Regions from separate parts of the Homo sapiens genome. Here region 2 is linked to region 1. The links come from fine-mapping of genetic effects on gene expression. A gene starts in region 1. The other region holds a variant in brackets. All regions are shown on one strand. Distances are between the middles of the regions. Region 1 holds the start of NR1D2 (nuclear receptor subfamily 1 group D member 2). Region 2 overlaps NR1D2 (nuclear receptor subfamily 1 group D member 2).

Region 1 (2,913 bases):
AAGCCCCACGCCTTCCCCGAGGCGCCTCCTCCGGCCTGCAGCACGCCCTCGTCCTGCACTTCCTCCTCGGAATCTGCAAGGTATGCAGCTACCAGCCTCCCCAGGCGCCGGTTCGTTTGGTTTGCGCGGGGTCCGCGCCTTGGGGTCACCTCGCGAAAAGAGCGTGCGGCGTCCGGTGCACTGCGGTGTCAGCGCCCGCTTCGGGGACGCCCCGCCGCGGGGGCTCAGCGGGCGCGCACGCGCGGCCTCCTCCGCAGTGTGCAACCCCGCGGGGGAGGAGGGAATCGCGGCGACGTCACTGCCCCGAGGCTTCCAAAGGGGCGGAGCCTCCCGGGAGGCTGCGGCGCTCCCAGCCAGCGCGCGCGCGCGCGCCCCCGCCCCCACGTGTCCCTGCGGCCCCGGGGAATGTGGGTCAGGGAGCCGAGCGGCCTCACGTGTCCCCGCCCGCCGCCGCCGCCTCAGCGCCCATTATGTAATGCCGCGTCACGCGCCCGCCCAGCCAACCGGCGCCCGCGCGCCGCCGAACGTAAACACAGCGCGCACGTGGCTCGCGCGGCCGGGCCATGTGAGGGGGGGGCCGGGCCGGGCGCCGGCAGGCCGCGCTGCGGCTTTGCAGGGAGACAAGAGGGCGGGCGCCGGGCGGCCCGGGGGGCGATGGGAACCGAGCCAGAGGCGGACACGCGGCGCGCAGCAGCCCACCCCGCCCCACCGGCCATGGGGACACCCCCTGCCGCCGCCCCCCAAAGTGCCCCGCGGGCTCTGAGCGCTCCCTCCGGCCATCCCCCACCCGCCGCAGTCCGGTTCTTACCTGCATTCACCTCCATGGTGCCCTCGCGGAGGCGGCCGGGGCCGCCCGCTTCCCGCAGAGGGGGCAGCGCCGCCGCCGCCGCCTCAGCGCCGCGCCGCCCCGGGCTGGAAGCAGCGGTGGTCGCGGGGCCCCCTCATGGGCAGAGCGGGCGGGGCTCCCGGGCCCCAGGCCGTGCAGCGCACAGCAGGCTGCAGCGAGAGAGGGTGGCGGCGGCCGGCGAGCGGCGCTCCTCGCTGGGTCCCTGACAACAAAAGCGGCGGCGCGGCGGCTTCCTGCAGCCAGCGCACCGCGGCGGCGAGGGCGGCTGACGGGGAGGGCAGCCGCGACCATGTGACCCGCGCACACACCCCCTCCCTCCGCCCGCCCTCGGCCGGCCGCTGCGGCGACCTCCGCCCCGCCGCTCCCCTCCCTCCCGCCCGCTTCCCGGCTCCCCGGCTACCCTTTTCTCCTGCGCTTCCCCCTTCTCCCCTTCCTTCTCCTTGCCGAGCCCCTCCTCTTCCTTCGTTTTTCCCCTCCGTGCCGTAAACCTCTTCTCCGTTTCCCTCCGCCGCATATTCCTCCCCTCCTCCTCCTCTTTCCTCTCCTCCCGGCTGCCTTTCCCGCCTCTGGCCGGGAGTCCTCTCCACGCCCTGCCCCCCAACCTGGTGGCTCTTAGGTCAAAGCGGTGGCTTGGCGCCGAGCAAGGGTGATTCTCAGGACCCCGGCTGGGCCGGCTGGTTCGGGCTTGCTCAACCCTTGCGCCCCCCACCCCCACCCCCCGCTCCCACCCGACCGACCTCCAAACGCTGGTCTCTGAGGGCACAGACCCTTCCCTTTCCCTCTGCACCCTCTAGGTGATTTTATCCAATCTCATAGCTTAAGTAGACCTATGTTCTTGTGATTCCCAGATTTATATTTCAAGCCAAGACCTCTCTTCTAATCTCCAGATTCCTACATCCAGCAGCCCGTTTGATTATGCCGCTTTTTTGCATCTCAGATTTTAGACGGGTGTACGCGTGTGTCCGAACTCAGCTAATGTGCAGTCAAGATCTGGGCGTTTCACCTTGAATGTAAATTTTAGATCAAAAGAAAAAAGCTAGACATAAATTGTATGCGTGCTGAGGTGAATTCTGAGGAAAGTGCATTGATGCCCGCAATTTAAACGCATTACTGAAGTAAGATGGGCTGATAGAGGCATGAATAGATGATATGGTAAGATGTTAAACTTAGGCGATGGGGATATGGGTGTTGCTTGTAAAACTCTTTCCAGTTTGCTCTGAAATTCTTCACTATAGAAGGTGGGGAAAATGTCACGTGGAAGACATATTTACATGTGCAACACCCTATTTCCCCACCCCCCAGGTTTCTTCACCATATCAATATTTACTGTTTTGGTAAATCTGCAAGTTCCTGAAGCCAGCAAAATTATGTTTCTCTCCTAACACTCTCACAGCCTTTTATTCTCCATTCAATCCATTAGCAAGTCTGAGCTATTCTACCTTCAAAATATGTTCAATCCCTGTTTCTCACCGTTGGTATTGCTAGAGCAAACCATTATCTCTTGCCTCAGCTACTGCTCTGGTTCCCTAACTAGGAGAGTGCTTCTTGGGTCCTCCTACAGTCACTTCTCCCCAGCAGTCAAAGTATTATTTTTAAAATGTAAATAAGATCTGATTACTCTGCTGAAAACCCTCCAATGGCTTCGTGTTACACTTTGAAAAAATTCAACGACTTAACCTGACCTGCTTCGCCCTGCACAGATGTGGGTCCTGCTTCTCTTTCCAAGGCTGTCTTGATACCCAAACCCTTCTAAACACAGTTCCCTAATCACGGTAGCCCTCTATTCTTCCCTACTTCTGGAATTTATCACCCTCATGTGATGCTGATGGAAGAGTTCCCCAGGCCACGCTTTGTAGCTTGCTTGCTTTTTCATGTATCAACTACCATCTACTTCTACACAGGTAAAATGAGGTTAATATGAACAGTCTAGAAGGCAGAAAAGAAATCATAAAAGAGGATACCACTCTAAAAAGGCTGTGTACTGTATGATTCCAACTATACGACATTCTAGAAAAGGCAAAACTGGGCTGGGCGCGGGGGCTGACGCCTGTAATCCCAGCACTTTG
Region 2 (2,913 bases), 29 kb before region 1:
TAGTGAGTCTTTGTCTTTACAAAAAAAAAAAAAAATTTAATTGAATGGGCATGGTGACACATGCCAGTAGTCCCAGCTACTTGGGTGGCTAAGGTGGGAGGATCACTTAAACCCAGGTCAAGGCTGCAGTGACCCACGATCATTCCACTGCACTCCAGTCTGGGTGACAGAGCGAGATGCTGTCTCAAAAAATAAAAAGAATGTTGGGCAGGACGTGGTGGCTCATTCCTGTAATCTCAGCACTTTGGGAGGCCAAGGCAGGTAGATCACCTGAGATCAGGAGTTTGAAACCAGCCTGGCCAACATGGTGAAACCTCGTCTCTACTAAAAATACAAAATTTAGCCGGGCATGGTGATTGGCATCTGTAATCCCAGCTACTTGGAAGGCTGAGGCTCAAGAATCACTTGAACCCAGGGGATGGAGGTTGCAGTGAGTCGAGATCATGCCCCTGCACTCCAGCCTGGGTGACAGAGTGGGAGCCTGTCTCAAAAAAAAAAAAAAAAAATTGGATATTGGTTTGTGGGGGTAGGGGGAGGGTCACAATTTTTCAGACAAAACTACTGGCAGAGACCTCTTTCTCTTGACATTTAACTTTGGTCAATCATAAATTATCTTCATAAAAATAAAGCCTTCAGTAATGATTTGAAGAGTCCCTCTTGCCTTTGATATTCAAGTAATGGTTTTTTTAAAAAAAACACTATTTCACTTGATGAAATCGTTTGCCAAACATTTATTAAACATATGTACTGGTTACTGTTCTAAGGTGCTTGGAAATCAGCGGTGAACAAAACAAGAATGCCTTTAAGGAGCTTACATTCTGACAGAGGAAAATAGTCATGTGCCACGTAACAATGTTTCAGTTAATGGCAGACCACATATAAAAGGGTGGTCCCATAATATTATAATGTTGCTGAAAAATTCCTATCGCCCAGTGACGTTGCAGCTTTTGTTGTCGTAACATCATAGCACAACACATAACTAACACGTTTATAGTGATGCTGGGGTAAGCAAACCTATTACACTTAATAATAGTAAACAACTATATTACTGATTTAAGTATTTACTATACTATACTTTTTATCATTATTTTACAGTATAGTCCTTCTACTTCATTTTTTGAGAACTCCTGAACTCAAATGATCCACCAGCCTGGGCCTCACCAAGTGCTGGGATTACAGGCATGAGCCACCTCGCCCGTCCCTTCTACTTAAAAAAAAAAAAAAAAAAAAAAAAAAGGTAACTGTAAAGCAGCCTCAGGCAGGTCCTTCAGGAGATATTCCTGAAGAATGCATTGTTATCATAGAAATATAGAAGGTGATAGATGATGACAGCTCATGCATGTTACTGCTCCTGAAGACCTTCCAGTAGAACAAAATGTGGAGGTGGAAGACAGTGATATTGATGATGATGAGCCTGTGTAGGCCTAAGCTAATGTATGTGTCTGTCACAGTTTTTAACAATAAAGTTTAAGAAGTAAATAAATAAATTATAAATAGAAAAAAGCTTATAGAATAAGGATATAAAGAAAATATTTTTGTATAGCTGTACAATGTGTTGTTTTAAGCTAAGTGTTACTACAAGACTCAAAAAGCTTTTAAAAATTTAAGTTTATAAAGTAAAACAGAGCAAGCTAAGGTTAATTTATTATGGAAGAAAAAAAAATTTTAATAAATT[T/C]AGTGTACCGTACGTGTTCAGTGATTAAGTCTACAGTCATATACAGTAATATCCTAGGCCTTCACATGCCCTCACGATGCACTCACTCATTCACCCACAGCAACTTCCAGTCCTGTAAGCTGCATTCATGGTAAATGCCCTACACAAGTATACCAGCTTTTATCTTTCATATCTATTGTTACTGTACCTTTTCTTTGTTTAGATATGTTTAGATACACAAATACTTATTGTGTTACAAACTGCCTGCAGTACTCAGCACAGTAACATGGTGTACAGGTTTGTACCCTAGTAACAATAGGCTATACCATAAAACCCAGGTGTGTAGTAGGATATACCATCTAGGTTTATGTAAGTACACTCTATGATGTTCACACAATGACAAAATTGCCTAACAATGCATTTCTCAGAACATATTTACGTCATTAAGCGACGCATGACTCTGGTTTCAATCATATGATTAGTAATTTATAATACCGAAAACTGAGAAAGAATGACAGTAATCCCCACAAACAAAATAATCTAGGTGGGCAAAGAAAGAAACAACTGATAAGTTGGGAAGATACCTGAGTGGGAACTAGTATTAGTAGTAGTTGGTTGGACAGGTGTAGGAAGTCACACAAAAAATTTAAAAATGTTTGAAGTTGTTGGTCTTTCAGTGGCTATTTTGTGTTTAGATGACCTATGCTTCGTTATACAACTCAGAACTTCAGGGAAATGGATGCCTATATCTAAAACCATAGATTGTATTAAATTTTTCTAAAGCCTCCATTTCTAAAACCATGGTTTTTAAGATTTCAAGGCCAAAGAACCTAAGGTACAAACCTGGCTGGATGGTAAACAATCTTCTGGAGACTATAATGTTAAGAGTACACATGTTGAAGTGGAAATTCATCTTCTAAATGGTGTACTAAATGCTACACTAGTACTGCAGAGTTTAATTTATGACACTTCTATCTTCTCTCTCCTTAGCTGGTTCTTCATTGCACTCCCAAGCTTGTACTCCTCACCAAATATTCTATTTATTTTCACTTCCTACAGGATGAAAGTCAAACCTTCAACAAAAATCTCTATGAAGACAACTGAAGTCTGTATGTAAATGAGCCTTGACCTCACACCTACATGCAAGTCCTTAATCTTCAACTGGAAGTGGCTGCTGTTACTTTAAACAACCTGAAAAGAAACTTACCTTCCAGGTATAATTCCCCTTCCATGATACTAGGATTCTTCCAATCTTACAG

The links. PIP is the estimated chance that this variant, and not a neighbour inherited with it, causes the effect.
Region 2: its variant is the best candidate, but not a certain one, in a credible set for the expression of NR1D2 in monocytes after LPS (Fairfax 2014, PIP 0.54).

The regions. Positions count from the first base shown.
Region 1 is chr3:23,943,490-23,946,402 of GRCh38, reverse strand. NR1D2 (nuclear receptor subfamily 1 group D member 2) reads right to left here and starts at 1,117. Exons shown (of 8, transcript NM_005126.5): 1 at 809-1,117. The coding sequence starts at 824. LOC124909354 (a long non-coding RNA gene) reads left to right here and starts at 1,223. Exons shown (of 2, transcript XR_007095845.1): 1 at 1,223-2,748. It also overlaps a transcript of NKIRAS1 not described here. RefSeq lists silencers at 26-567, 64-1,253.
Region 2 is chr3:23,972,412-23,975,324 of GRCh38, reverse strand. All of the region lies in intron 7 of NR1D2 (nuclear receptor subfamily 1 group D member 2), which reads right to left. Among named protein-coding and RNA genes, the nearest start is that of NR1D2, 29 kb to the right of the region's middle. The variant T/C (reference allele first, on the strand shown) is at 1,676.